4 linked regions of the Homo sapiens genome follow. The protein of the gene in region 2 purifies or fractionates together with the protein of the main gene of each other region. This does not show direct contact. Each region holds a gene or a part of one and is shown on either strand. Other genes may lie near its edges.

Region 1 (7,596 bases), on a different chromosome or scaffold from region 2:
CTCTAGTTGGCCCCTTTACTTGTTTGGATCCTTTCCAGCTGTAATATCGTTCATAAAGTAAACCTCTAAATGTTCCCTGTGTTTTTAGGGGAGATAGAGCAAGGACCAAGGGCTGTGCCTGGAAGAGGTGGGCACAGAGGTATGGATATTGTAGCATGTGTCAAAATTTTGCTCCTTTTTAAGGCTGAGTGATATCCATTGTATGTCTACACTGCATTCTGTTTATTTATTCATCTGTTGATGGACACCTGGGTTGCTTCCACCTTTTGGGTATTGTGGATAATGCTGCTCTGAACATGAGTATACAAATATCCACTTGAGTCCCTGCTTTCACTGTTTTTGGTCACAGAAGTTTTTAAACAAATATTTTATCAGCCAGGATTTTGTTAAGTTCTTTTGTTAGTAGCATCACAAAATGATATTGTTAAGATTCCACCCTATCCCCAGACTGAAAAACAACTCAGTATTGCATATGTGGTTAAGCCTTGTCAAACCTGCAGATTTACCCCTGGGTGTGTAGGAGGGGTGTGGGGAGTAGGGGGGAGGTTACTCCCTTCCACCAAGAATCATGGCTATTGATATCTTGGGCTGGATAATGAGACTCCATTTTACTTTTGTTTTTTTAAGAAATAATTACATTCATTGTGGAAATATGAAAAATAAAGAAGTCAAATATAATATTACCACCCAGATAATCATAATTTACTTTTTTTTTTGAGACAAGTTTCACTCTTGTTGCCCAAACTGGAGTGCAATGGCGCAATCTCGGCGCACTGCAACCTTTGCCTGCTGGGTTCAAGCGATTCTCCTATCTCAGTCTCCTGAGTAGCTGGGATTATAGGCGCCCGCCACCAAGCCCGGCTAATTTTTTTTTTAATTTTTAGTAGAGACAGGGTTTCACCATGTTAACCAGGCTGGTCTCAAACTCCAGACCTTAGGTGATCCGCCTGCATCGGCTTCCCAAAGGGCTGAGATTACAGGCGTGAGCCGCCTCGCCCAGCCCATAATTTATATTTTTATACATAAACTTCTATATTATTTCATGCATACACTCACAGTTATTTTTCTTTTACAAAAATATACTAATATACTTAATAATTTATATATACATTTATTTCTAGAATAAATATACTATTAAAACAAAGTATAGATAAGTATCGAATAATCATTGGGTAAGGGAAGATGCTCTGAGTGCAACTTCTAAGGCAGTAACCACAAAGAAAGAAAATATATAGTTGGCTTTATAAAAACTAAACACCTGTGTTGGGTACCTGTAATCCCAGCTACTGGGGAAACTGAGGCAGGAAGCTCACTTGAGGCCAGAAGTTTGAGGCTGTAGTGTGCTATAATCATGCCTGTGAATAGCCACTGCACTCCAGCCTAGGGAACATAGCCAGACACTCTTAAAAAACAAAAACACTTGTTTGGGAAAACCCACTTTAAACAAAGTTAAGGGCCAGGCGTGGTGGCTCACACCTGTATTCTCAACACTTTGAGAGGCCAAGGCAGGAGGATCACTTGAGCTCAGGAGTTTGAGATCAGTCTGGGTAACATAGTAAGACCCCATCTCTACAAAGAAATTTAAAAATTAGCTGGGCATGGTGGTGTGCAACCATGGTCCCAGCTACTCGGGAGTCTGAGGTGGAGGATCACTTGAGCCCAGGAGGCAGAGGTTGCAGTGAGCCGAGATCACACCACTGCACTCCAGCCTTGGCAACAGAGCAAGACACTCTAAAAAAAAGCCTCAGTTGGCCGGGCGTGGTGGCTCATGCCTGTAATCCCAGCCCTTTGGGAGGCTGAGATGGGCAGATCACGAGCTCAGGAGATTGAAACCATCCTAGCCAAAATGGTGAAGCCCTGTGTCTACTAAAAATACAAAAATTAGCTGGGTGTGGTAGCATTCACCTGTAGTCCCAGCTACTCAGGAGGCTGAGGCAGGAGAATTGCTTAAACCCGGGAGGCAGAGGTTGCAGTGAGCCGAGATCACACCACTGCACTCCAGCCTGGCGACAGAGCGAGACTCTGTCAAAAAAAAAAACCCTCACTTTTCCTCATCTATGAAATACAGGTAATGAAAACACATAGGATTATTGTGAGAATTAAATTTGATAAGACATGTGAAATGCCTGGATTTAGTAAGCGCTGCATCCTGCCTGGACTCAAGGCTGGATGCCAAGGGGAGAAGATGGTCAGGCAAGACCCCCTCAGCTCCTCCCAGGCAGTACCTTGGATCCCGCTCCTGACAGGAGAGCCCTTTCTAATGCCTGTGAGCCATCCAAATGATTAAGGGTGGTATTACCTAGGGCTCTGCTAGAGGCCCTGCAAATTTAGGGGTGAGTTTATGCAGAATACAGATTAGGAATGGCTCAAGGGAACTGTATCCCAGAGAAGTGAATTGGACAGGAAAAAGGCACCTTGGGGCTCTTATTCATCAAGCATACATAGGGTACTTGTCTACTGGATGTTAGTGCTCTGTTACTAGTTTTACTGAGGAGTCTGCCTGTATCTACTTCCCTACCTATAAAAAGAAAGGGGAAATTACATAGCCACTCTTAAGCAAATGCTCCAGGGGTAGAGGAATTGGGCTAGGAGACTCCCTTAGTTTCTTCTTCTTCTTTTTTTTTAGACAGAGTCTCACTCTGTTGCCCAGGCTGGAGTGCAGTGGCACAATCTCAGCTCACTGAAACCTCCGCCTCCCGGGTTCAAGCAATTCTCCTGCCTCAGACTCCTGAGTAGCTGGGACTACAGGCACCTACCACCATGCCCAGCTAACTTTTTTGTATTTTTAGTAGAGATGGGGTTTCACCATGTTGGCCAGGCTGGTCTTGAACTCCTGGCCTCCCTTAGTTTCTTCTGTTCTTTCAACGGATAGTGCATCAGTGTTTATTCATCCTTTCAATCAGTATTTAGTTGAGCTCCTAGTATATGCCAGGAGCCACACTTGGTCTTTAGGAAACCATAGCATGGGGATAAAACCCCTCCTATCTAGTAGAAGAGATAGGCAGTAATCAAAGAGTCACATAAAAAGATGTAAAATCATAACCAAATTAAGTGCCATGAAGAAAATACATGGGGACTTAACATTGTGTTACTGTGTGATAGGAATGGCCTGGAGATATGCAGAAGAAGGCAGGGCACTGGCATGGCTAGAGGGAGTGCTTGGTCAGGAAACCCAATTCAATGTCCTGAACACATAGAGAGATAAATACGATGTCATTCATGGGAAGACAAATGCTTTTAAAAGTATCATGGTATGTAGTAAATGCTCCACTATGGATACGAGTAAAACATTAGGGAGGCACACATGAGGATGTGATTAATCCTACCAAAGTGGCTGGAGGTGATAGTGGAGGAAGACTTCCCAGTGGAAGTGACATTTGAGCTGGATTTTGAAGGGCAAAGAAGAGTTCCACAGATAGGAAAAAATATGGAGCTGTTGCTGGTAGAGGAAACAGCAGGGCAAAGATGTTCAAGGAAAGCTTCAGAAAGGGAGAGAGTCTCAGGACACGTTTTAAAGTAATGGTGGGTGGTGGTTGGCAAGGAGTTTGGGGAGGTCCTGGCTGGGTTCCTCAGTACTCCCAAGGCTGGCACTGTTTCCCAGGTAGGCCCCTTGATCTGCAAGGGACAGGGCAAGGGGAGACTTTGAGGTAAGGCATTCTCTGTTTTGTGCATAGGGAGAAGGAAGGTTCACTATTTATTCCCAGACGGCAAGGAAATGGCTGAAGAATATGACGAGAAGACGAGTGAACTACTTGGTAAGTGACAGAGGCTCCCAGTGGGCCTTTAGTAATACTTGGGGCTGACATAAGCACAATGAACACTCCTAGCCTTAGGCTTGAGGTAGGAGCCCAGATCAAATGTAGAGGCTGGGAGAGACGGAAGCCCTCGAGACAACAACGTTCCTGAGCATAATCTGGGCACCAAAAGTGGAATGCGAGTCCTTTTGACCAGTAAAATTCATCCCCACCCCTCACCCCAGACAAATGAGAGAGGGAGTAATTCTAAGATGTAGAGAAACAGTTGGGAAAAAACTTTACAGAGGAGGTGGTATTGGAAGTGAGCCTTGTAGGTTTAGGAGGGATAAGGGCAGACTTTCACAATTTGTTTTTCCTTGTTTTTTTGTTTGTTTGTTTTGTTTTCTAAAGCCACACCAGGAGCAAGCGAGTATCAGAGGCAGAGCTTCTGAGCTTGCCTCAAAGGCAACACTATAAAATATGGTCCTTATTTTGAAGAACATCTCAGTCAAAGAGGGTCAAAACAGTGATTTTGCAGCGTGGTCACTTTCATTCCTGCAGCGCCTTTCCTCTAAGAACAGGCTCATGGGTAGGGGCTCCAGCTCAGATTTCTGGGAATTATTTGATTTGTCCACTCTGTTCCCAGGTGTGCACATCAGCATTAACCAGCTTCCCAGAGCTAGGTGGCTGGCTCTTTGACCCAGGGCCCAAGGCTGTCAGCAGTGGGAGTTGGTCTCTTTATTAAGTTCCATCTGAAATGCTAAGACCAATGATGGAATCACAGGCTGGTTTATTTTCTTGTCATTATTCTTGGCTTTAATTTCTTCCTGGGCCTGATCGACAGGTAGTATTGGTGAGGGAATTTCTTTTTCCTTTTTTCTGACAGCTCATAAATGTCTAGAACCGACAACATGGATTACACGGGCTTGCATTCCCTCAGTCTCCAGTCTTAAAATGTTTGTCCTGCGCATGTTCAGTCGCACAGTGAAGTGTTGATCCCTCCTTATTATGAGCTGCTTGGGCTCCAGTCCCAGTTGGTTTAGTCTGGTGCTATTAAAAATCTTGATGTGTTTAGCATATGACACTGATTCGGTGGAAACCAATACAGTAGTAATATCCTCACAATGCATTGTAATTTATAGTGCTCCCAGGGGATGACAGCCTTGGAATGCCTAACAGGGGAGAACTTATGAAAGCAGAGGTCACGTGGACTAGCCACCACCATAACCAGGCCAGAGAATAGCCGCAGCTCCTCACTCCCAGCCCCCCGTGCCACTTCTCTACTCCTCCACACAGAGCAAATAAAACAGCTATAGCTGCTGCGGCTGTAAAAACAAACAAATAAAACCCAGGCCTCTTTGTTGTGCTTGGATATGAAACTGAAATTAAAAACAAGTCCAGGTTTCTTCATTTGTAGCACCATGTGCCCTGATATCCCTTATTAACCTGTCACTTCTCCTAGTGGCAGGTGGGGAATAGACCATGGCTTCCAAACTCCTCTTTCTTAAAAGCAGAAATGGAGAAGACTGTTCACAGGAGAACACTGTTTGGCTAAAGTTGACCTAATAATGATATTAATAGCGTGACTCTTACTGGGCACCATGCTAAGTGCTCTACGTGAATTACCTCATTTACTCGTCCTCGTTAAAGCCCTATGAGGTAGATACTCTTGTCTCCATTTTACATTTGGAAAAAATGGAAGCTCAAAGAGGTTAAGCACCTTGTTGAGAATTATGTAGCTAGTTTCTAAGCCAGGATTTAAGCCTAGTTCTGTCCAATTAAGAGCCCATGCTTTAGTCCTCAACAACATAGTGCTGGGAGTTGAGAACACTTAAATCCAACTTTCTTTTCTTCTTACTGTTTTTCTTTCCCCAGAAAGGCCTGAGTGTGGACTGATGGGCAGACAGGAGGACCTCACTTGAGCCACTGGGCCCAGCTCTAGAACAGCAGATCTTTTTCTTACTCTTCTTCCTATCCACCACTGCTGCCCTGGCAAAATACTCTCCATTATTAATTTTTAAGTATAAATAATCCCAGGGGTTGAGCTGGCTTTTGCTTGTGCATTCTATGAAGTAAAGTAGGGACATGGTTTTTGTGGCAATAAATAGGAATAGTTTCCATTTTTCTAGCTAAGTATACAAATTTGATAATTAGCCAAACCAGTTTTCTGTTAGAAAAATTCAAAGTAATTTACAGAGGAAGAATTGCCAATAGGTGTGCGTCAGTCTGGGACAGAGTTCCTCCCGTCGGTGTTAATAAGCATGTTAGTGTCCTGTTTTTTTCCTACCCTCTCAGTGCTATTCATTCCCACCCCCCACAATGATTGCTGCATGTATTCATAGAGGAAAAAACTGAAGGCCCCACAACAATGATCGGAACATCAAACCAGCCTGAGAAGAACACAGCATGTCCAAGGGGGCTGAGGCTGAAGGGCAGGCCATCCCCCAGCGATTACATTCGGATTACCGACTTAATCTGCTTTGGTATTTGACCGCCAGCCTAACCACCCCAGGCTGCATTTGGAGGATATTGAGCACTTTCATCCCCAAGCACTTCACTGGCTTTATAAATGACCCACTCGATTCCCTTCGGCCTCCTCTGGGATGGGACATGGCAGCTGTTTAATTGCCACATAGCAATGTTGCAGTGTTTTAAGGCAGAAAAGAAGAATCCTGCATCCAGTTGAAGCTGCAGGGAACATTTAGGGAAGGGGAATGTAATTATCCACATTGGAAGTGGGCCAGGGTTTGGAGCTTTGGGGAAAGAGGCCTTTAGGACTTCTACTTTCCAGCCCACCTGAAAGATGGGGCCTCCTTTCAGCAGTCTGGGACATCAGCCTGCTTCCTGCTGATTTAGGAAAAAGCCCCCAGGCGCCACCTCCTTTATATATTCCCCATCAGACTCTTCACCGGGGTGGAAAGTCTCTTTTCCAAGGTCTGGCTGGGGCTCAGCTGGGAAGATATGACAGCGTCCCGGGAAGCTGCCTCACACCAGTTTGGGTTTAACATATAATCAAATCAGAGTGACAGCAGATGGAAACAGTCTTCTGTTGCCGCAGGAGCCGTCCTTGAGTTCAGAAACAAAGACGGGGGCAAGAAAGACAAGACAAAGTGTGCATTTGTACATGTGTGTTCACACCCATGCACTTGTGCATAGGAAAAATAAGAAGGACTTCCCCAAAATCTTTTATTGGGTCTTATCTCTAGAGGGAATGGGAAAGGAGACTTTCTTCTACATTCTAACAAAGAATTTAATTCTCAAGGTGTTTAAACAAAAAATAAAGGTGAAGCAGCCAGAGGTGTCAAGTTCCCTGAGTGGTTTTTAAGGTCAGAAGTAAGGAAATCAGCAGCTGACTTTCTTCCTTCTTTGAGTACTTCTTGGGAAGTTTTCTGTGTAAAACTCAAAATTTTTTGGAGTAAAAGTGCACAGAAAACCCTGGGGTGGTTGTCGTCCCTCCAGGCCACCTTGGTGCATTATTATGCATTAGGACACCCATTTTAGCAAGGCCCATGACTTACAGGGGCACCTCACTTATCCAGCCCTAGGTCGTGAGGTAGTCCTCATAATTTACTTTTTCAGATAATCAAAGCTTACCCTTTAAAGGCCAAATATAAAAAATAAATTGAGCTACTTAAAAAAAAACAGAAACCTTTCAAAATATTACATGTGCTTATTGAACACTTTCAGAATAAAGTTTTATTAATAATTCAAATTCTGGATTTGGAGTTAGGAGACCTGGAGTTTAGCCGTGGCATTTGTAAGATTGTCTCCTTGAGCCTCAGTAATTCTTCATAGTCTGTTTCCTAGAGAGTAGTGGCAAGGGTTGAAAGAGAGCAGTCAGGGAAAAAATGCTATTTCTCAT
Region 2 (8,004 bases):
GGGCTCTGGGAGCAGACTCTCACGGAATGGGGCCTCACATTTATTCTCAGGCTCCAGCTCCTGCAGCTCCTTACAGGATTCCAGCTCAGACTGCAGCACTGTGGACTTCTCCACTGACAGCTCACACCTGAGGGTGGGCAGGGTGGGGAGGAGTTGAGGCCCACAGCCCTGAAGCACTGGTCAACATTCCCAGTATCTAGACTGAAACAGCTCCTTGAGGCCCCAGCCTCCTGCCCTGGCTGCCTGATGCCCAGAGTCCAGAGCCCCTCTCCTTGTTTTGTGCTTCCCTATCACCACCTGAATAGCTGCTCGTCTGTCGTGGAGTCCCGGCACCAGCCCTCCTGGCGGCCTGGGGAAAGAGTAGGTGGTTGGAGGGTGCACCCTTGAGAGGAAAAGAGTGATGGGGGCTGCTGCAAGGGGTGGAGGCTGCAGGTTCCATCACCTTTTAAAAGCACGCATTCTTTCTGGACATCGCCTGCTGTCCAAATGACGCGAAATGTATGTTGGGGCAACTGGTCGTTGAGGGAGGCAGCAGGCAGGTCACAGAGCTGGGAGTACTGGGTCAAGGAAATGCCCCAGCCTAACCACTTTTTTGACTGTCCCACCCAGCCCTGCCCCAGACCCCAACTTCTGCCCCACCAATCCTGGGATACCCAGACATGGCTGGGCCGGTTCCTGCCATCTGGGGTCCTCCACTCCACAATCAGGGGAGAATCATCAACCATGAGCAGCAAGATCTCCATCCTGGAGCCCACCTGGCACAAAGGACAAAGACTTCAGCCCCATCAGCACCAGGCCCACAGTCCCACAGTGCTCTTGACAAAAGCTGCAGGACTCACTAAGAGGGGCCGAGAGAAGGAGACAGTCAGACAGGCCTCGTCCCGGCTCACATGCAGGCAGCGCAGTGCATCCTGGGGGTCAGCTGCGGGGAGACAGTGTCAGATTTCTTTAAACCCTCTCCCATTCCTATTAAGCGCTAAACACCCAGCCCCTTTCCTCATTGCTCACCTCGGCCTAGGAGCCAACGGTGATAAAACCAGGCACTCTGGTCATTGGGGTCAGTGAAGAAGGCATTCTGCACCAGCTCCAGCTCTGTGGGGTTCCAGGAGGCATGGGGCTGTGGTCAGGACACTGGTGAGCTCCTGGCCACTCCAACACCCTACCCTCTCCTTGGAGTACTTCCAGCCCCCAGTCTCACTTATATGCTGTCCTTGCACAGGGGCTACGTATGTCAGTTTTATCTTCCCCATCAGACACTTAAGCTTCCTTCAGCCAGGGACTGATTCTTAAGCACCCCTGGAGCCACGCATGAAGTAGGTGCTCAATAAACCTGAGTGACAGGTTCAGGAACAGGGTCAGGCATGGGGGCTGGAAGGGTGGCACTGCAGAGTCCTCCTGAGCATCCCTGACCCTGGTTACCTTTGAGCAGCACATCCTCAGGGAGGCGCCCCTGTGGTCCAGAATCCGGCTGGGGGTGCAGCTGGGGCAAGAGACAGGAGCGGTAATGCCAGGAAGAGTAGTTGGAGAAGTTTCGGGTGATGAGGCTGTCAGTGAAGGCTAGCTCTTCTGCAGGGGGCACGGCTGCCTGTGTGGCCACAAACCGCCGATAGTCCCAGCAGTGAACTGGAGGGGAGAGGTGACAGCATATCTTAGAGGCAGGGCAAGAGGAGCTACCTGGCTGGGACCCCTAGAGTCCCCTCAGGAACCCCTAGAAACACCTCAGTGCACTCCACGGAGGATGCATTTGGCTCCAACATCCCTTTCAGCACCAGCTCAGTGGACCCATCCTGGATATCCCTCCCCATTCTGGGCCTTACTGAGGCCCCAGTACCAGAATGTGGGCAGGTGAGGGCTGTGGGGACAGAATCTGCAGCCACGTACAGTTCCGCTCATCCACCTCCAGGAAACGGGCACAGAGCTCCAGCTCTCGGGTCCAGTTGGGCTCAGGCAGGCGGCCTAGCAGCCAGCATCGGTGGTGCCAGGTACCATAAGACTTGGGGTTCACCCGCAGGCAGCTCTCCAGGAAGCCCAGTTCTGCCTTCACCAGAGCAGCCAACTCTTCAGGAGACCTGTACCCAGAAGGGAAGGGGGGGGTCAGGGCTCTCCTACAGTCAACCTCAGCTCACCCCTCACTTTCTGCACCCAGCCCCCTACTATCCTCCATCTATGCCACTGGCTGCCCCATTTCTCCTCCACCCCTAGACCCAGGCAGTGCAGGCGCAGGGCCAGGGCAGTCTTCTGAGATCCTGAATCCCTACGCACTTCTGAGTCTCCAGCTGCTGGAGCACCTCTCGTCGGCAGTTCCAGAGGGTGGCAAAATCAGGGTTGGCTCCCAGAATCTGGCTTGTCAGTTCCAGCACGGACTCATCCAGCTCACCAGCCTGGCGCTAAGAAGATAGGTGGCAGGGTTAGAGATCATATAATTTTCCCACTACAGGACTAAATAACGTAAACTTAAAACCATCCAATATTCTGTGAATCCCACATTATACAACAGGTACTATGAACCATGCTTTATGGCCTTACAGGTATTCTCTCATTTAATCTTCACAACAGCCTTATGCAGTAGGTGCAATTATTAGCCCCATTTTACAGATGAGCAAACTGAGGCCCAAAGAGATTCAGCAACTTGCCCAAAGTCATACAGTTATAAGTGAGATAACCCAGAATTGGATCTAGGCAGTCTGACTCTAGGGACCAGCTCTTGGCCTCTGCACTATACTAAGGGAGCTACTTGGGGTCGGGGCTACCTCTGAGGGCCCCACCTTCTGGAATACGGCCTGGGTGGCTGACTGGTATAGCTTCAGCTTCTGCTCTCGCTCTAGCCTTTTGGCCTCCGCCTGCTCTTCTGACGTCTTCACCTTCAGGCGTCCGTGCTACAAGGATGAACGGGTTGGAAGAGTGCAGGTTGCCTTGCAGAAGCTGACCTGCAAAAACCCCACACTGTGGAGCCCTAGGTTCATACGGGGCAACCATGGCACTGCCACTGGGGGTGAGGGCGCGGGCCTGCGGAGGTGAAGGGCTGGGCTCAGGGTTCTCACCATGGTGCCGGCTCAGGGTTCAAGACAGGGGAAGGGTCCAGTGGTAGCCCTTGAAGTCTGAGGAGAGAAGTGTCAATCACGTAGCCCCGCCCCTACTAGCTCCGCCCACAGCTGTGTCCGGAAGCAGCAAGCGTGCCTGGGCAGAGACCCCCAGAGTGTAAAGAGGTCCTGGGACAGGCTTTGCACGTTCCACAAGAGGTGAGCACCCGGACTAGGACTTCCATCCGTGTGGCCCTTCCTATAGCCCGATTCGCCCGGGCCAGAGCGCGAGCCGGGGCACCTGGGCGTTGGGGACCACTCTGCTCCCCAAAGGTTGCCGCTACCCGCCCGTCCCACGGCTCCCGGGCACCCCCGCCCCCCGCGGGCGGACCCACCTGCGCTGGGAGGAGGCGCGGGGGACGCGGAGCTGCGGCGCCCGCCACAGAGCCCAGGCGCTGGCTAGAGCGGCGCCACGTCCCGGCTCATCGAAACGCAGCGCACTCTGCAGGCTTGGGGAGGGACTTGCGGCGGAAGAGGCCGGCTCGGAGGCGCGTGCGCGGGGGCTCTGCGCTCGCTGTCCGGAAACGCCTCGTACCTGTTAGCCACCTGGTGTGTACGAGTGCGCACGGGCGACTGTAGCGTGCGTGTGAAATGGGGGGAGGACCATGCCAGTTGGTAACTCAGAGTGCAATGTAGTTAGTGGAAGAGGTTTCTCCAACAGCCGGAAACCCGCACCTTCACTACTCCACTGACCTCACCCTGGCCACACCGACAGCCTTCTAGATGTCAAATCTAACAGGGGGAGTTTCCTGTCATTTTCTCTAACCTCTGAAGCATTTGACGCTACCCATTTCTTTATACTTGACACCCCCATTCTGGCTTCTCCTCCTGCACCTCTGCCTCTCTCTTCTCATCTGTTCACCTCCACCCCTAAATGTTGGTGATCTCCAGGGCCCTTTCCTCACCCCTTTTTCACTTCACCCACTGTTCCTGGGAGAATGTTTAAATGTAAGCCTTCAACTGCTTCGAGTTGGAGCTCCTCAGAGCTGTTTTGGCCCACAAATCTGGCATTACACTTTCTCTGGGTGAGTTCATCCACACTCATTGTTTTAATTACTACCTGTAAATTGATGACACCCAAATTTATATCTCCAGCCCAGATGTCTTGCAAGCTTAAATAACAATAAATAATATACATGCACATACATATTCAAACACCTGTTGGATATCACCTGGTGTCCCAGAGACACCTCAAACTCCAAAAGCCAAAAGGTATAAATTATCTTTCATCCATCCTGTCTAAACATTGGCCTTTATGTTTTCTATTGTAGTGAATGGCACTATTTCCTCCTCACTTCTTAAACTCGCTTAAATACTCTTTCTCTTCCCACTGCCACTAGGAGTTCAAACTCCGAATTTCTTCTCCAGATTGTTGAAAGTCTTTTCAGTGTTCTCCACCTCATCCCTTGTTATCAGTCCATCCTCTGTGCTACTGAATCCATTTTTCTAAAATGCAGATTTGACGTCATATCTGTGCCTAAAAGTGCTGAGTGGCTCCTTTTCAGGATAGAATTGTAATCTCTCAGCTCAGCACATCAGACCTATTGGCATTTGGGCTCTGCCTACTCTCTGGCTGTATATCCTGCCTGACCCTGCCAAAAACTCTTCATGACAGCCTACAGAAATACTTGCAGTTTCCTAAATATGTTAGCCTGTTCCCTCTTGACTCTCCTTTCTCCACACTCCTCCTTTGCCACAGTAATTCCTGTTTATCTTTAAGATTTAACTTTTTGAACTCCACAGTACAAAGAAAAAAAAATGTAACTCAAGTGGCACCTCGAGGAAGTTCTCTAAAATGCCCCAGTCTGATTTGATAGACCTTCATATGTACTTTTAAAGACTGTGATTTTTTTCCCTGTGCCTACTGCAAAGAAGGTTTTCTGGTGGAGCCTTTATGAGGTTCAGGGTGGCTAGTGAGTGTGTGTGTACCACACGTACACGTGTGTGATGTCTTTGCGAATAGTGTGTCCATGTGGCATGTGTGTGTTTATAACTCACACCTGGGTAAGAAGGTAGTGCTTTAAATTTTTTTTTTTTTTTTTTTTGAGACAGGGTCTCACTCTGTTGCCCAGGCAGGAGTGCAGTGGCACGATCTCTGCTTACTGCAACCTCTGCCTCCTGGGTTCAAGCGATTCTCCTGCCTCAGCCTCTGGAGTAGCTGGGACTACAGGCATGCACCACCACACCCGACTGATTTTTGTAGTTTTAGAAGAGACGGGGTTTCACCATGTTGGCCAGGCTGGTCTCAAACTCCTGACTTCAGGTGATCTGCCCACCTTGGCCTCCCAGAGTGCTGGGATTACAGGTGTGAGCCACCATGCCCCGCCAGTGCTTTAAATCTTTATATATCCTTCACACCTCTCTCAGCCCCTGGAAATGTATGTAAAGTGTCCATTATATACTTGTCCTTTCCTAGATCCTATAACAAATTCTCGAAAAGAGACATTTTTCCTATCCCTGTGTATTTGTAGTCCCAGTGAGGAAAGAGTTAAGCCATTTATTGGTTCTCTTTGTGCCAGCCACTGTGATGGGAGTTTTGCATACATAGGAGGGATGTGCACACACACAGAATTACAGGTAGGAGGCAGTAAGCAGAGTGATTAAGAACATGGATCCTGGAGCCAGACTGCCTGGCTACAAATCCTAGCTTTGCCACTTGCTTGTCCCAGTGTGACCTGGGGCAAGTTACTTAACTTCTGTATTGCGTTTCCTCTATGTCTGAATTTCTTCAACAGTAACATAGGAAAAATATTATCTAGCTGCTGCAGTTGAAGTTAATCTGTTGAAGTTAAGCTGAAATAAAAGAATCTATGTAAAGTGCTTAGAATAGTGTCTGTACTAAGTAAGGGCTCAGTATAGTAATAGGAAGCTGAGGCTCAGAAAGATTAAGTAACTTGTTGAGGGCCACCCATGTAATAAGTGGCCAAATGGGACCTGTGTCTAGTCTGGTCCAGCCCTCCCACCTCACCACCAGCCTTCTTTTGTTGGTGGTCACCTCCTTCTCTAGCTTCCTGCTCTGTGCACACTCATAGGCGCAACCAGATACTTGGGAACACAGATGCCCTCAAGTGCAGATTTGCCAGGTACAGCCTTGCATCATAGTCACTAATCACATTGTGATTAGCAATCTTGAAACTGGGAAGGTTGAGTCAAGCAGGCTTAAGAGAGGAAGTGAGTCTCATGAAAAAATCTGCATCAGAGAAGGCAGGGCTTGAGTTTTGGAAAGAGCGGGCAGGAAGGGTATTTCAGGTATGTAATATGACGTGAAGGTGGGGGAGAGAAAGCCAAACTAACTTAGCTGGCTGGCACAGAGAGGCTGAGCCAGGTGCCTTTGGAGATAAGAGCAGTGGAACTGATGATAATAAGCCTCTTGCTTGAAGGCAAAAGGAGTTGTCAGGAGTTATATTTGGCCTCCTATGTGGGATAAGTGGGAACCATGCAGGTGTCTGAGAGCCACAATCTTTTTTTTTTTTTTTTGAGACGGAGTCTCGTTCTGTCACCCACGCTGGAGTAGTGGTGCGGTGTCTGCTCACTGCCAGCTCTGCCTCCCAGGTTCATGCCATTCTCCTGCCTCAGCCTCCTGAGTAGCTGGGACTACAGGCGCCTGCCACCCTGCCCAGCTAATTTTTTGTATTTTTAGTAGAGACGGGGTTTCACCTTGTTAGCCAGGATGGTCTCGATCTCCTGACCTCGTGATCTGCCTGCCTCGGCCTCCCAAAGTGCTAGGATTACAGGCGTGAGCCACCATGTCCGGCTTTTTTTTTTTTTTTTTTTTTGAGACAAATTTTGCTTTTGTTGCCCAGGCTGGAATGATGCAATGGCACCATCTTGGCTCACTGCAACTTGTGCCTCCCGGGTTCAAGCGATTCTCCTGCCTCAGTCTCCCGAGTAGCTGGGATTACAGGCATGCACCACCATGCCCAGCTAATTTTGTATTTTTTGTAGAGACAGGGTTTCTCCTTGTTGGTCAGGCTGGTCTTGAACTCCCGACCTCAGGTGAGCTGCCTGCCTCGGCCTCCCAAAGTGCTGGGATTATAGGCGTGAGCCACCGTGCCCTGAAAGCCACAATCTAAATGATGTTTGAAGAAGAGATTTTTACTGCCCTCTATGTATAGAAAGAAACAAACAGTAATTGAGTATCAACAGAGCCCCAGACATCTTATTTACTGCACTCACTACCTATATGAAATAGGTATTATCCATATTTTACAATGAAGCAACAGGGAATACAGTGGGTTTGCAGAGGTTAGTTTCTTGTCCAAAGTCACACATCTTCGAGATTCAGAATTGAGTCGGCTGTATAGGTGAGAGTGACCATTGCCAGAGGCCTGAACCTGAGTTTCTTGAGACCTGGAACCCTGGCGTCTTTCCACCCCTGCCAATTCTTTCTCTACTCCTGCTCCCAACATACATACACAGAAGCACACACACATAGTCACTTACAATGGCTCCAGGACCCTGAGCCCGTCACAGACCAGAGAGTCTGGAGGGAGGAAAGGGGGCCACGAGCCCTGGGTCAGGGCCCTGGGCCAGGGCCCTGGGTCAAAGCTTGGCTAGAAGCCATGGTCTGACGGCAGGGGGAGCAAGTGCGAGACAGGTAATGGAGCTGTCTCCGGGCCATGTGCAGTGTGTGGTAGTGTGTGCATTTATTCAGTCTCTTGATGTTCAGCATCAGTGCTGGGCCTCACAGCATGTTGGGTGCCAGGGATCCAGTAGTGGACCAGAAAGACAAGTCTCTGTCTTCCAGAGCTTACAGTGGCGTGTAGCACTGTCCGATAGAACTTTCTGTGACAATGGAAGTGTTTGGTATCTGTGTCATCTAACACGGTTGACAGTAGCCCCATGTGACTGCTAAGCGCTTGAAATGTGCCTAGTGCAATTGAGGAACTGAATTTTTCATTTTTTTTCATTTTAATTAACTTAA
Region 3 (8,014 bases), on a different chromosome or scaffold from region 2:
AACCTCAGATGATCCACCCGCCTCAGCCTCCCAAAGTGCTGGGATTACAGGCGTGAGCCCCCACGCCCAGCCAATGTGAAATTCTTAAAAAGGGACGCCAAACCTACAGTAATAGAAAGCGATCACTATTGCCTGGGCTGGGTGTGAGGAAGGGCTTACCACAGAGGAGCACGAGAGAACTTTTGGGGGCAACGGAAATGTTTTATATTTGGATTATGACGTTGTTCACAAAACCCATCAAACAGGCCGGGCGCGGTGGTCACGCCTGTAATCCCAGCACTTTGGGAGGCCGAGGCGGGCGGATCACGAGGTCAGGAGATCGAGACCATCCTGGCTAACATGGTGAAACCCCGACTCTACTAAAAAAATACAAAAAATTAGCCGGGCGTGGTGGTGGGCGCCTGTAGTCCCAGCTACTTGGGAGGCTGAGGCAGGAGAATGGTGTGAACCCAGGAGGCGGAGCTTGCAGTGAGCCAAGATCGTGCCACTGCACTCCAGCCTGGGCGACACAGCATGAGACTCCGTCAAAAAAAAAAACCCATCAAACAAAACCCATTAAACAAAACCCATCACACAAAACCCATTAAAATAGGTGCATCTTACTGTAAGTTACACCTCAATAAAGTTTGATGTAAAAAATCAAAGCATGGGCTGGGCACAGTGGCTCACGCCTGTAATCCCCGCACTTCGGGAGGCCAAGGCAGGAGGATAATGAGGTCAGGAGTTCGAGACCATTCTGGCCAACACGGTGAAATCCCATCTCTACTAAAAGTACAAAAATTACTGGCCGTGGTGGCATGCGCCTGTAGTCCCAGCTACTTGGGAGGCTGAGGCAGGAGAATCACTTGAATTCGAGAGACGGAGGTTGCAGTGAGCTGAGATTGCACCACTGCACTGCAGCCTGGCTACAGAGCAAGACTCTGTCTCAAAAAAAAAAAAAAAGATATAAAAATTAACTGGCATGGTAGCATGTGCCTGTAATCCCAGCTACTGGGGAGGCTGAGGCAGGAAAATCATTTGAACGCGGGAGGCAGAGGTTGCAGTGAGTGGAGATTGTGCAACCGCACTCCAGTCTGGGCGACAGAGTGAGACTCCATCTCAAACAAACAAAAAAACAGAAAGCCACATGGTCAGCAAAGCCTAAAATGTTTGCTGCCTAGCCCTTCACAGTAAAAGCTGGCCAACCCCTGGTCTAGCACATTTATTTGGTGCTACCAGCTTCATCATCACCGCCACCTTCATCAGCTGCTCCTTCTGTCTGGAAAGTTCTTCCACCGGATCTTAGGACAGCATGCTCCTTTGTGGGACTCGGATCACATCTTAAGTGCAACCTCCTCAGAGATCTTCTGTGGTTACCTTGTCATTCTCTTATCTCATCACCTTGTTTTAATTCTTGACATGCCAGTTACTGTTTGTTTCCCTGTTGCATCCTAAGAACTTGGCCAGTTCCTGACTCATAGGCAGCACTCAGTAAGTGCAGTGAGCTGAACAAGTGAACAGCTGCTGAGCCTCTGGCACAGGGGTCCCAGCACAGGATGTGACATGGAAGGCTCTGAGCTCCTGGCTGAGCAAGTCTGATGAAAAGGCCTCCCTTTAGGTGTGCGTGCACCAGTGCCAGGAGAGCCTCGGCATGAAAGAAGGGCCTGGAACTGCCACCCAGTTCTCATTTTGGCCAATGGATAGATGTGGCACAAGTGCTAGGGTTAGGACACGCTCGGGGAAGAGCAAGGGTGGAGCTGGGGGTGCTGGTAGTCTGTGGGGTCACCTGAGACTGAGGTTCCTAAGCTGCATGCAGTGGAGAGCTGTATCAATCGGCTGTTCATTCAGACCAGAGGTTCAAGAATCCCTAGAACACAGACCCCAAAGTACAGTCATACAGGAGGAGCCCCCTTGCTAGGTGCCAGCCCAGGCAACCCTCGGGGCAAAGCAGAGTCCAAGTGCATCCCAAGCAGGTGAGGGATGAGGCCAGGACAGGCCAATCAGAGACACGAGGGATGGCCCCAGCCAACAGGGAGGAAATCCAGCTCGAGCACCAGGAGGGGGAAGGACCCCCTAAAGCCACCCCCATCCCAACCCCAGCCCGGGGGACTTGGGGCAGGGGCAGGCAGCTGGCCCTGTAGAGCTCTGAGCGTCCACCACAGTGACAGGTATGGAGCCAGCATGTGTGCAAGTCCACCAGGCAGCCCCCAGCCCCTCAGGCAACCCAGCCGCACGCCGCCGGAGCTCCTCTCGGCGAGTCGTGGCTCTGGGTCCCTGAATCAGGCAGCGCAACCAGAGGCCTCTTCAGGAGGCCCAGGGTACTGCAGGCAAGACCCTTCTCCCAGAGAAACCCCAATACGTCCAGGAAGCAACTGGGGCGCCAAGACGCCCAGGAGGGCTCACTGCTGGACTAGACACACTTTGAGAAAGGCAGCGGTACCCCCGCCTCCACCTCCACCCCCAGGTAGGAATCCAGGAAGAAAAGGAAGGCACAGAGGTTTGGGGAAGGCTAACTTTGCTCTGTCTCCCCTAAGCCTAGAATGACTCCGTACACGGCTCCCCTCTCTGCACCCATGGAAATTAATCCCACCGTGCCCCGGGCCTCCGCTCTGGTACAGACAGGGGCCCACACCAGTCCTGGACGCTCCCTCCCAGGCGGGGTGCTTGCTTAGTTAGTAATTCTTGCCCTGATCCCAATTCCTGAGGGGTGGTCCGGACGCCCCGCACTACAAGTGAGGTCATTTGAATCCCTGAAAGTTGAAGGAACTTGCCCCAGTGAGACTCCACTTTCTCCTTCAGCCTAGCTCCAAGGCCCACACAAAGCTTAAGTTTGGGTAAGTCCCTTCTCTGCGGCCTCGATTTCCTCATCTGAAAATGAAGACAATTCCGGAGCTGTCTACCTGACCGACGGGCTGCGGAGAATCCACACACCTTCGCCTTGGAACAAAACGCGAAGCGCCCACCGGCAGCCTTCGGCTCCCTGCCTTTCCTGACCGTTGGCACCTGCTGCCCTGGGCCTCAGCCAGCAACGCCCAAGGCGGCCCGGCGGGACCTGTGCCCTGGGCGCCCGCGTGCCGGCAGCCGCGTCTCCCGAGGGCCCCTCCCCGGCCTCCTCCGTCGCCAGCCTCCTCTCTCCCTTCGGTCTCCTCCTCCTCCCGCCCTTCCCGGCCTCCTCCCTCTCCTCTGCCTCATCCTTCCCCGGCCCGGCCTCCTCTCTCGGTGTCGACCCAGTGCCCCTCCTTCCCGGGCCCGCCACTGCTCTCCCTGGCCGGGGCCCCTCTCCCTCGCTCCGCTCCCGCCGCAGGACCCGGGAGTCCGCGCCTCACCTCGCGCCCCGCGCCGACCGCCGCACAAGTGGGTCCGCTGGCTTCCGCGGGTCAGTGGGCCCCGCGCTCCCTGAGGCGCTGCGGGGGCGGGCCCCGCACCCGGCCCTCGCCATGGCAACGCTACACTTCCGGCCCGCGGTACCCATAGCCGGAAGCCGCGGTGCCCCGTGGGAGCCGGGGGCGGAGCCTGGGAGGAGGAAATGTCGGGGGCGGGGCCTGGGGAGGGACGGTCGGGGGTGGGGGCCAACGCGGACAGCTGCGGGCGGCCGGGCGAGTCCTCCGCGGCTGGGACCTCCTTGGGGCGTGGGTGGGACGGGAATGGCTCAAAGTGCTCCAAGGCTCCCGGGACGGTGGTCATTGATTTATGCTGGACAAAACCGAGTCATCGCGGGCAACGGGACGGGCGCCAGCGGAATGGGTGGCAGCTTTGGGGGTGGTTTCGGGCCCAGGACAGTGCGGTCGGAGAAGAGCGGTCAGAACTTGGGGAGCCTCCAGCGCCCCACCAAGGAAGCGCCAGTGGAGAGGGGGGTGCCTTAAAACTTACGGGAGACCGGGCGCGGTGTCTCACGCCTGTAATCCCAGCACTTTGGGAGGCCGAGGCGGGCAGATCACGAGGTCAGGAAATCGAGACCATCCTAGCTAACCTGATGAAACCCCGTCTCCACTAAAAATACAAAAAAATTAGCCGGGCGTGGTGGTGGGCGCCTGTAGTCCCAGCTACTCGGGAGGCTGAGGCAGGAGAATGGCATGAACCCGGGAAGCGGAGCTTGCAGTGAGCCGAGATCACGCCACTGCACTCCAGCCTGGGCGGCAGAGTGAGACTCCGTCTCAAAAAAAAAAAAAAAATTATGGGAAAGGCCCGGCCCGGTGGCTCACGTCTGTGATCCCAGCACTTTGGGAGGAGGCCGAGGCCAGTGGGTCACTTGAGCCCGGGAGACCAACCTGAGCAACATAGGCAGGCCCGGTCCCTACCAAAAATTAAGAAATTAGCTGGGCTCTGTGGCGCACGCCTGTAGTCCCGGGACGCTGAGTCGGGAGGATCGCCCTAGCGGGGGAGGTGGAGGCTGCACGGGGCCCAGATCGCACCACTGCACTCCAGCCTGGGCAACAGAGTGAGACCTTGTCTCAAAACAACAACAACAACAAACACTTGTAGGAAAGAACGACGCCTTGCTGACCGAATGGGGTGAAGTGGCCACAAGTATTAGCCTCATGAGGCACAGGATTGTGCAGCCATAACCTAGGGAACACAGCAGAGAGGTGGTGGCAGGAGTCCTGAGGGAAACCACGTGGCGTCTGAGGGGAGAGTCAGAGATAGAAGGAAAAGGGGCACCACCCGACCGGGGGTGTGGGGGGCAGGAGCAGTGTGGTACCCCACATACAAGGCCCCTTGCGGCCCAGGCCTCCTCCTCCTGGACACTTGCTGCCTGTCCCTCCCCTCCACACCTCAGGGTGTGCTGGACCCCACCGTATGCTGCAGATTTTCAGCCCTTTGAGGTTATCATGGTGGAGGCTGCACAAGAAAAGCTGAATTCTCAGAGTGAAGGGCAAAAGCATATCCCTGGGCCCCCGTGTGTCTGGGGGCCCTTGGCCTGGTGCCAGCACCAACCACCGCTGCTAATTCCCAGAGCTGCTATCCTCTTGGGCAAACTTGCCCCTTGTGAGGGAGGAGAACCTGGGCTTTGGGGCAGGATACACAATACCAGCCTTGCTTGGGTGGAGGAGCAGAGATGGCTAGGGAGGAGGAGGTGAGCGGTCCACCTGGGCTCCTGAAGCAACTCCCAGGAAATCAGTTGAGTCAATGTGTCCCCCTCTTGTTCCTAGGGTGCGGGCTTCATGGCCTTCTCCTCCAGGAAGCTCCACCTGATCATGTCCTGGGTGGATATCCAGCCCCCATAGTTCAGGGCCTACTAGCAGCTGCTAGATCTTGAACTCCAGGAGCGCCCCACGCCTTGGGAGCTTGGCATGGGCTAAATACTCCCCCATTTGTTAAATGGGGTCCTGAAACCTGACCAGGGAAGACGGGATAAAGTAGCCATGGGTCATCGCAGCCCCTTTGAAGCCGGGCCTGGCCACCCAAAGGCAACTCAGGGGTGGAGACTGAGGCCTCAGGAGAAGCCCCCACTAGAATGCTCTCTGCCCCTCCCTTCCAGATTAACCAAAACCTGCTAATTGTGGAAGCCCTCGGCATGCTCCCCTCCCCCACAGCCTCTTCCTCCCTTCCCTCCCCTCCCCCTTCCATCCGAATGATAAAGGCCCCAGCCCGCCTGCCCCAGCCCGGCCTCAGGTCCCGGCCCTGCCTTCTACACTGCCCCACCGCCCTGCACCCTCCACCCGGCCAGGCCCCTGCCCACGCTGTCTACCGTCCCGCATGGGGCCCTGCAGCGGCTCCCGCCTGGGGCCCCCAGAGGCAGAGTCGCCCTCCCAGCCCCCTAAGAGGAGGAAGAAGAGGTACCTGCGACATGACAAGCCCCCCTACACCTACTTGGCCATGATCGCCTTGGTGATTCAGGCCGCTCCCTCCCGCAGACTGAAGCTGGCCCAGGTGAGCGGGCCCCGGCCCCCACTCTCTCTTTCCCCAGACTCGTTCCCCACCCACTTCCAGGTTCAAGCCCTGACCCCCACCCCTTCCTAGCCCACCCAGGTATGCCAGTGGGACCAGTCCTGAGAGCTGAGGGCCTCAAGGCACGACCCTTCTCCGGGAGCCCCTTGCCCTCTCTGCCGCGCTTCCGCGCAGAAATGTCCTTCTTCGGGGACAGCAGGGGCCGGCACCGCGCGCCCCTGAGCCCGGTAGTGGGGGAGGGGTAGGGCGCTACCCCCTCCCCGTCTGGGCTCACGGCGCCGGCCGGCCGCCTGGCGGTTTCAGATCATCCGTCAGGTCCAGGCCGTGTTCCCCTTCTTCAGGGAAGACTACGAGGGCTGGAAAGACTCCATTCGCCACAACCTTTCCTCCAACCGATGCTTCCGCAAGGTGGGGCAGGCCAGGGTCGGAGCCCGGGGGCGGAGCGCGCGCGGAAGTCCTGAGCATCCAAGGTTGGGCAGCCCCACCCATGTCTGACCCCCACACCCAGGTGCCCAAGGACCCTGCAAAGCCCCAGGCCAAGGGCAACTTCTGGGCGGTCGACGTGAGCCTGATCCCAGCTGAGGCGCTCCGGCTGCAGAACACCGCCCTGTGCCGGCGCTGGCAGAACGGAGGTGCGCGTGGAGCCTTCGCCAAGGACCTGGGCCCCTACGTGCTGCACGGCCGGCCATACCGGCCGCCCAGTCCCCCGCCACCACCCAGTGAGGGCTTCAGCATCAAGTCCCTGCTAGGAGGGTCCGGGGAGGGGGCACCCTGGCCGGGGCTAGCTCCACAGAGCAGCCCAGTTCCTGCAGGCACAGGGAACAGTGGGGAGGAGGCGGTGCCCACCCCACCCCTTCCCTCTTCTGAGAGGCCTCTGTGGCCCCTCTGCCCCCTTCCTGGCCCCACGAGAGTGGAGGGGGAGACTGTGCAGGGGGGAGCCATCGGGCCCTCAACCCTCTCCCCAGAGCCTAGGGCCTGGCCTCTCCACTTACTGCAGGGCACCGCAGTTCCTGGGGGACGGTCCAGCGGGGGACACAGGGCCTCCCTCTGGGGGCAGCTGCCCACCTCCTACTTGCCTATCTACACTCCCAATGTGGTAATGCCCTTGGCACCACCACCCACCTCCTGTCCCCAGTGTCCGTCAACCAGCCCTGCCTACTGGGGGGTGGCCCCTGAAACCCGAGGGCCCCCAGGGCTGCTCTGCGATCTAGACGCCCTCTTCCAAGGGGTGCCACCCAACAAAAGCATCTACGACGTTTGGGTCAGCCACCCTCGGGACCTGGCGGCCCCTGGCCCAGGCTGGCTGCTCTCCTGGTGCAGCCTGTGAGGCTCTTAAGACAGGGGCCACTCCTCCCTCCCGCTCCCACCCCCACCTTGTTGACAGGGAGCCAAGGCGAGGCGGCTGTCTGCGACCACAGCAGCCTCGAAACACCAGGCAGCAGCCTTGCTGGGAGTCCACGGTGTTTATTGGGCCACCCCACGCATGGCCGTGGCCCAGCTGGGCACAACCCTCACCCTGGTCTGTCATGCCTGTTTTTCCTACACTCAGCGGCAAAGCTGCAGGAGCAGGGCTGAGCCTGGAATAGCCCTTCCTAGTCCCCTCTTCTCAGCCCACTACCCATCCATCAGTCACCAGCCGTCACCTCCCCTCCCGTGCTCCAGGCTGGGGGAGGGAGAGCCCAGTGGTGGATCCAGCCTGAAGTCCTGCCCTCTCTCATCTGTCTGGAAAGGAGGTAGCACCTTTTTCGGGAAACGGGTTAGGGAGTAAAGACTGCACCCTACATGGTCCTGGTGGTGGGGGGGATAACAGTAAAGGAATTTGCAACGTTTTAATGCCATGCCTGATTTTTGGGTCAGGAGTGGTGACTTGGGTAACCACTTGGCGGGGGGGCCTGGGATTCCCTGCTGTGTGCCGTGATAACAGCAAATGGTGATAAGGAGAAAGCCAAGACCTGTGGCCTGATGCAGGGCTGGGGGCGGGGGGTGATCACTTCAGCAGGCACAACACACTTCACTGGCTGCGGAGGTGGAGGGGTGACTCTGGGAGCTCAGGGGCAATGGATCCAAAGAGGCTAGGGAGCTTGTGCCCTGGGAGACGGGGTACAGGGACTTTACTACCGCCTCTGCCAGCAGAGACCTGGCCTGA
Region 4 (7,596 bases), on a different chromosome or scaffold from region 2:
CCCATGTACTACTTTTCCACTACACTGGCATGGCTCCCATGGGAGTTTGTTCATGTTTAAAAATATAGCTCTTTAAACTTGCTTCTATTTAGGCATCTTTCTTAATTTATCTCTATGTAGTTATATAACTTTCTTTAAAAGTCTCATATATATTAATAACCAAACACACTTTTTAAATTGCAGTTTGTCACTGCTAAGATGTAGAAATGAGATTTTTAAAAATTGTGTATCCTGCAACTTCTTGAATTAGTCTTTGTTAGTACATTTTTATACTATAAGTTTTAGCAGTTGTAAAGCCATGTTAATAGAAAATATTTATGCTACTTTCCTTATCTTCCTCATTTTGTGAATGCTGGCTTTTATTGCAATGACAGGTCTCTTTAACCATATATAAAAATAGTGCCAACACTGTTTACTTTCCACTTGAGAAATGTTTATGTTTTCCCAGTAGGAATAATGGTAGTTCTTGGTTTAAGTACTTAACAGACTCCGAGAAGTCTATTAAATCATTGCCAGAGAAATAATTAAATCAAGGGTGAATGATGAATTTTTGAAAAGTTATCTGTAATTAATACTTTGGATTTTACTATTTGTTCTTTTGATGCTGATTTAATGGCTGTTCTGCTTAACACCAGCCTTATAATCCTGAGTGATAGTAAATTATTTGTTGCTGTATTGTTTGCCAATATTTTATTTTGCATTTTGCATCTGTTGAGAATAAAATCCTTCTAAAAATGTCTTTTAGTACTGAGAACATGTCTGCCTCAAAAGACAATTTGAAGCATACTGTCCTTCATGATACATGGATAGACATTATTTAAACATTTGAAAAAGTTCACCAGTAAGTCCATTAGGGTCAAAGTCCAACCTGTCAGAAAATTATACTGGGTTACAATATCCCCTAAATTTTTAAATGCTTTTTATTGGTATAACTTCTCATTTCCCACTTATTTTGTATTAAGAAATATATTCATTTTCTTCATTTCTAAATCAACCTTTATTTTCGACTAATTTTTCCTATTTCCATTATATTCGGCTATACCATCTTTTGCAACTTCTGATTGTTCCTTTTCTCAATTTCTTATGAATAATCTGTGATACTGAAAATCTTTTCGGTAGATCTGGAATACCTTCACCTTCATTTTATTTATCATCTTATGTATTTCTCATTTTAATTACTATTTTATAGGTCTATTTCAAGTATTTCAGTTGTTCTGTTAGATTTAAACTTTAGGATAAAGTTTAAATATGACTTTTACTATATTTTTAAAAGTCAATACAATCCATGACTTTGCTACTTTAAGTAAGTTGTCAATTACTTAAATCTGTCTAGTCTCATTTTCCTCACATATAGAGGAGCAAAAATTAGTGTATTCCGAACAAATTTTGGCCTGATAATATTTTTTGTAACACAATCTTCAGATCATGAGATGTGTTACTGAAGAACATTTTGTTAAAATTTAGCCAAATTCTGCTTCGAGATCCATGCTCTAAAATATGTTTGTTTAGTTCATCTTATCTTCACATTTCTCTGATTCAATAAGCTGCAGGACCAGTGTGTGCTTTTTACCCCCGGCAATGCTAGACTAATTTTCGTGGGCACTTTCTCTTTCTCCTGCAGCGCCTACACTCTCTAACAGTGAATGTTAGTAGAAAGATCAAAGGTTTTAGAATCACAAAAGGCTGGGTCCCCATGTTGGCTCTTCCACATACCAGATTCTGAGCAAATTACTAATAATTCTCTTATTTCTTCTTTGAAGGTGATATGGTTTGGCTGTGTTCCCACTCAAATCTCATCTTGAATTGTAGCTCCTATAATTCCCACGTGTTGTGGGAGGAACCTGGTGGGAGATAACTGAATCATGGAGTTGTTTCCCCCATACTGTTCTCATGGTAGTAAATAAGTCTCACGATATCTGATGGTTTTAAAAGGGTTTCCCTTTTCACTTAGTTCTCATTCTCTCTTGTCCACCGCCATGTAAGACGTGCCTTTCACCTTCCACCATGATTGTGAGGCCTCCCCAGCCACATGGAACTGTGAGTCCATTAAACCTTTTTCTTTACAAATTACCATCTCAGGTGTGTCTTTATCAACAGCATGAGAACACACTAATACAGAGGGTACATGCGAATTTGCCTCACAGGATTGTTGAGAAACTGTCATGAGAAAGCATAATACTAGGTACCAAACACATGATAAATACTATTTCAGAGCAAAAACTGTCACAGGGATCATCATACTCTGACTGAAGAATGGAAACTGGACTAGAGGAAAAGCAAGTTCATGTCTTCTGACAGCTCCACAGGTTTTCACCATTAGAGTACTACCAGTTTTATGACGTTGGGTGGCTCTGGGAGAAAAAAAGTTTCTATACTCTGGATAACAGCTAAGAGGCAAGAGAGATTACAGAAAATTGTTACTTCACAATTTGTTAAGTGGGACACAACCGAAAGGGCATGGTAAATCCTCCTTTGATTCATTCCTATCAGTTATGTTATAGTGATATTAATTAAAGTGGTAGAGCCAACAAGGTGGTATGTTTCATTCTCACTGAAAAACCTTGGGTAATCTATTTATAGAGGGTTTTATAAGTATCTGTAATCTCAGGTTAAAAAGGCCTCACTCTGTTTCTCCTTAGGAATTCCTAAGAATTCCTCCTTAGGAATTTCAGAACAGCCCTTCTGAAGTATCTTCTCCTGGGGCACTTCATTTTTCCTTTTGGTCTAAGTTACTTATTGGAAGCTATTTTAAGTGCCAGGGCAGGGCTCTGCAGAAATTTTCTGAAGTATTAAATAAGAATAAATCTTATCTTTCAAATTTCCTTTGCAATCAACCTCCCCAAAATGAGCTTTACAACCACTAATTGAACTCCAATTCTTTTTGTAAATTAGAATACTGTGGTGGCATCATTGCCTCATCAGTTACAAGGGTCAAGTGAGTATTATAAACTTCAGACCTTCACAGTGCATAAAGGATCATGCAAAGCTAATCTTTAAACGATTATAGACAAATGTATTTTATTATCATATTGGCATTTGTATTAGTTGCTATTCCTACCACCATGTCTATACATTTATATTATATGCAAAAGATCCACATAATTTACCATTTGTGTATGTTTCACTATTCGAACAGGCCGCAGCAACTGTAACAGCTGCAAAAGTAATTAAAATATTACTTGGGTATTACTAATTGTTCTGTAGACAAAGATAAAATCTGAAGATCATTAGCAAATACATTACCTTTAAGCTGAGTTGCTAATATGGAACCCTTACATATATACCCAATACTAAAATAAAGCTAACTCTGTTTTAAGATTCTGGGTCATATAGCCCATTCTAAACAAAATGTTCAATAATCAATAAATCACTCATTGATAGGTTAACAAAGATATTCAATGCTGAATGTCTGAGAGTTAAAGACAACATCTGCATAGCATTCATCATATATAACCACTTCTAATTACTCATATGGGAAACTGTCCTTTAAATGAGAAAATTCTGATGCCATGAAGGAGGTCCAAAACAGCATTTCGAGATTGCTCTTTTCTAATTTTGAAGGTGCTTCTCTGGGCTTTCTAGGTTTTTGCTTTCCTCAGAGGATTCTAGTTTGGCCATTACTACATTATTGGTTCCAGGAGCCTCTGGCTGCTTATCATCACCATCAAAGATAATGTCTTCTGGATTTGGAGGTGGAGGGCAGAATTCTTCAGTTGGAAAGATCTCCTGGAAAAGTGTTTCAGCTTGCTTGACAGCATGCTCATTTCCCAGGCCACAGTCAGGCCCAGAGCAGACATAAACATTGGAAGGCAAGCCATTATACGAGCTTCTGCTGATTCCCGAGGAATCTCTCATATTAAAATAAAGAGCCCACAAGAGTCTTGGCTTTGTAAGTTCTTCCTCGTTTATTTCTGTTTCAGTATACGGAGTGAATAATTTCTTCACCACTGATTCTAAGTCTTCTCTTGCTGTTTTAGAAGATGAACATGTCAAATGTACCAGATAGGTGTCCTTCATGCATGTCATGGTTGAAGAACATAATTCTGTGACCCGTACAGCACAAGCTCCTGGCTCTGCTGGAGGAACTATCAGAATGGAAGTCTGCTGATCTAAATCTGTCTTTAGTATAGACTGATCTGTAATGAGTACTGCCCTAGAGATCTGCTTATACTGCACATTTGAGCATGTTTCCTCAGAAAGGTAACTGTCTTCCACAATAAAATATTTAGCATTTATTCTTTGACCAAAGTGATCTATAATTGCTTTACATCGTCCAGATTCTTTGTCGACTACAAAGCATTGTACTTTATGACGAAGACAATAGATTCCACCAAAAACTGCACACATCCTACAGAAACCCTGGGGAATTTCTCCTTGGCCATACAAGGGAAATAAAAAGGGGGTGTTGCCAAACCGTCCGAGACACTGAAGGAAGTTTTTAGTTGCGTTAAGACCATCTATTGTAGTGCAAGATGATTCTGATGTCATTGCAATTGAGTGCAGTACAAAATGTTGAAGGTTGGGAGTTAGTTTTTTAGTTTTTAAGTATTCTGAAAATGAACACTGCCTGAAAGCTTGGTATTCATCAGGATGTTGTTCATACTCTAAACAAAATGTGAGAAATTTCATTAGCATCCTCTTTTCAACCATGGTGAGTTCCTTGCTATTAAAGACATCTGCTCTGGAACAAGGAACTTGTTCTACCTTTCCTTCCCGAAATGCAAGAATCCTAGTGACATTTTTAAATTCTACATAACGACTAACATCTGATTTGATTAAAAGATCAATTAGCAATCCTTGAGAATACAGCAGTTTTGACACCAAATCAATATTAAACCTCCTGCCTTCTTTAACTATTTGAGAGTAAGTAATCCTATTTCTAATTGGTTCATCGGCCTTATCTTCTACTGTAGATTTGCTTTCATCTTTATCTCCATCTTTATCTGAAACTGTGTGCATACAAGTTTTATCTCCACAATACTTTTCCTTCTCCACTGATTCCTCTACATCAGTTACTTCTAGTGAAATCTCTGTATCACTTTTCTGAGTGTGTTTTGCAGGCATTTCGTCGCTATTAAAATACGATAACTGGCTTTCTTCAGGTAATGCAGAATCCAGAACTTCAGTGAAGGTATTAGACACCCCCAAAGAAGGATTTTTCTGCAGAGCACCAATCTCTTCAACGTTGTCCTCCATATCCTGACTGGCGTAGCAAAAAGCTTCTGTGTGTTGAATAGTTTCATCCTTCTTGCGAAGAGTGATGGCTTCTTCTGTTTCATGGATCAGGTCCTGCCATACAACAGTACTTTCTTCCCCAATGTCATTGTTTTGCTGATACTCCTTCAACCAGGATAGCAATCCTGAAAAGCTGAAACTAGCCCAGTTTCCTCCATAGTAGCTTCTTGAATCAATATGCAGAACCCTCTGACCACTTCTTGAACATGCAGCTGCAAGGATGGATTCGGGCAAACCTGTCCCTATTATAACCACATCAAACTCTGTGGGAAGATTGTCCGCCATTTTAGGAAGTAACAGCGTCTGGTGACAACTGCTGATGAAAGAAATGAGGTGTGATTATGCTGTAATAAAATCTGTCCTTCTGATGTTCCAGTTATCCCAGAAGCACTGAAGTTGCAGGTCCTAGCTGTTTAACGGTTACCCTTTTAAAATATTTTTTTTCTTATAAGTCAGTAGCATAAAAACATGAGCAAGTACATCTAATCACATCTGAGAATACTAAAATGGATGTGTGGTTTCATTTCTGCATTTCATCTTAGCAGTAAATGTCAAAATGCATCATATATGCATTTGTGACTGGAACTCTTCTCTGAAAGAAGAAAATTCAAGAAAGAATACATTGTAAACAATATAAGAGAAAAATAATTTCATGCAACAATGACAATCCATTGGAGTGTGACATCTTATTTGGACATAAACCTCTACTAAAGCATGTCTTAAATGCTTTCTCACATATTTTCTAATTTCTTGAGAATGGACAATAGAGATATAACAGCCCTCCCAAGAATCAGGCAACATAGTAATAGAGAATGAACATAATGTTCCACAAAAATAAAGAAGAAATAACATAATACAATTCTCTAACTTTAGCTTTTAAGAAAACTATCATGTGAATAAATCTATACACAGCTGTGAGCTTAGACTAAAAGGAACGCATGGCTCCACTGTTTATAGAAACAGATTATAAACTATGTGCATACTGCCATGATTCAAAATATTTCTGTGGCCATTACAGTCTATGTGTGATTCCAGAACAGCTGAATATAAGACCTTTCCATGCCACAACCACCCTTAGGATCTCATGGTAGCAACATGAGACTATTTCTACTCAATTACTAGTCAGATTATTACAAAAGGATTAATTCAGTAAAACAACTGGCCATTTAAAAATATTTAGGCTCATAATAGCCCTGAGGAGGAAAATGTATTAAAAATATTATATGAATGTACACATGCATATAAGTAATAAAGGAAAAAAGTGTGTAAGTGTAAGTAAAAAAGGAAAACTTCTGATTTCATATTAAAATATCTTAACATAAATAATACCTACTTCTAACATTTGAATACAGTGATGTTTGCATTTCGCCACTGTCTCTGCAACCCTGAATCTCTGCATCCCAAGCAAAAGGTCTATCTAAACATCCTCTGCCAAGACTAACACTGTTTGTTCTTATTTTTGAAGGGGAAGTTTAAAAAAAAAAAAATAATAAGGTTCTCCTGTTAACTTTGAGCATAATGCTGGTTACATTCCATGTGCGGAAGACATCTGTGTGATGCCCTGTGTGGCCAGAGGTAGAAAGGCCAAGGTGCTGAAGAGCATACTCACCTGAAAGTCTTTAGGCTAAAGCAACAATACTGCTAAACTTTCTAATATTCATCATTGCACAGTTTTGAGCTCTGGTTTTCACTACTGTTAAACCTACTGAAATATAAATCAGTACAAGCTGTACCTGTCTAGCCCAAGATGACTAATAATCCTGGATACTGGAAAAACAAGCCATTCAATTGGAACTTAGATTAAATTGCATAGGGCACACACCTTTAGTTTAACTAAAATGGCAATCCTAACAGTCCTGTCTAGTCAAAGCCTCTGTCTCAAAAATATCAAGGATTCCACTCATTTTTGGCATTCCCTAAGAAGCCAGGAACTAAGTACAGAATGCAGCAGTTGCCTGGCCCACTCAAGTATAAATATAAGTATGTCTGAATTACTTATTCTGCTTCTTCCAGCAGGGTGTGAAGATGGAGACTGAATCTATGATGGTATCTGAAGAGGTGTAACCATAGTACATGCTGCTTCTTGGCTTAGAAAGACAGGGCTCAGGGTAGGAGTAGGAGCAGAAGACACAATCAATAAGCGCTAAGATCAGGCACGTTCTAACCTACAGATATCAAAGGGGTCATCAAAATGCAAAGCAAGTAGGATGGCCTTACAGAGCATTAAGCTGAATTACCCAATAATAGAGATGAGAGAACTGATAGCTGGAGAGATTAAGTGACTTGAGAAAGCCCGCACAATGCATGAGTCGCAGGATAAGGAACAGGATCCACTCTTGTGCCATCAGACCAATGGTCTTT

The links.
Region 1: the proteins of RABGGTA (region 2) and DPCD purify together in Homo sapiens (affinity purification with mass spectrometry; 2 studies listed by BioGRID and IntAct, with this or other methods). This does not show direct contact.
Region 3: the proteins of RABGGTA (region 2) and PPP1R16A purify together in Homo sapiens (co-immunoprecipitation; 2 studies listed by BioGRID and IntAct, with this or other methods). This does not show direct contact.
Region 4: the proteins of RABGGTA (region 2) and CHML purify together in Homo sapiens (co-immunoprecipitation; 4 studies listed by BioGRID and IntAct, with this or other methods). This does not show direct contact.

Annotation. Positions count from the first base shown.
Region 1 is NC_000010.11:101,590,984-101,598,579, forward strand, and holds part of DPCD (protein DPCD), read left to right. Parts: intron 1-3,674; coding exon 3,675-3,755; intron 3,756-5,609; coding exon of another isoform or gene 5,610-5,656; exon of another isoform or gene 5,657-7,031; intron 7,032-7,596. UniProt on the Homo sapiens protein: May play a role in the formation or function of ciliated cells.
Region 2 is NC_000014.9:24,268,072-24,276,075, forward strand, and holds the start of RABGGTA (geranylgeranyl transferase type-2 subunit alpha), read right to left. Parts: upstream 3,527-8,004; 5' UTR 3,416-3,526; exon of another isoform or gene 3,099-3,415; 5' UTR 3,045-3,098; coding exon 3,042-3,044; intron 2,877-3,041; coding exon 2,766-2,876; intron 2,388-2,765; coding exon 2,263-2,387; intron 2,070-2,262; coding exon 1,882-2,069; intron 1,624-1,881; coding exon 1,420-1,623; intron 1,093-1,419; coding exon 1,009-1,092; intron 923-1,008; coding exon 840-922; intron 756-839; coding exon 654-755; intron 549-653; coding exon 443-548; intron 350-442; coding exon 298-349; intron 128-297; coding exon 39-127; intron 1-38. UniProt on the Homo sapiens protein: Catalyzes the transfer of a geranylgeranyl moiety from geranylgeranyl diphosphate to both cysteines of Rab proteins with the C-terminal sequence -XXCC, -XCXC and -CCXX, such as RAB1A, RAB3A, RAB5A and RAB7A.
Region 3 is NC_000008.11:144,473,419-144,481,432, reverse strand, and holds the start of PPP1R16A (protein phosphatase 1 regulatory subunit 16A), read right to left. Parts: upstream 3,452-8,014; 5' UTR 3,306-3,451; intron 3,083-3,305; exon of another isoform or gene 2,880-3,082; intron 2,848-2,879; exon of another isoform or gene 2,751-2,847; intron 1-2,750. Other genes in the region: FOXH1 (forkhead box protein H1), read left to right, coding at 5,677-5,850, 6,172-6,276, 6,377-7,195; kinesin-like protein KIFC2, read right to left, coding at 7,983-8,014. UniProt on the Homo sapiens protein: Inhibits protein phosphatase 1 activity toward phosphorylase, myosin light chain and myosin substrates.
Region 4 is NC_000001.11:241,630,247-241,637,842, forward strand, and holds part of CHML (rab proteins geranylgeranyltransferase component A 2), read right to left. Parts: intron 5,949-7,596; exon of another isoform or gene 5,828-5,948; coding exon of another isoform or gene 5,787-5,827; 5' UTR 5,552-5,786; coding exon of another isoform or gene 5,521-5,551; coding exon 3,550-5,520; 3' UTR 1-3,549. UniProt on the Homo sapiens protein: Substrate-binding subunit (component A) of the Rab geranylgeranyltransferase (GGTase) complex. Binds unprenylated Rab proteins and presents the substrate peptide to the catalytic component B.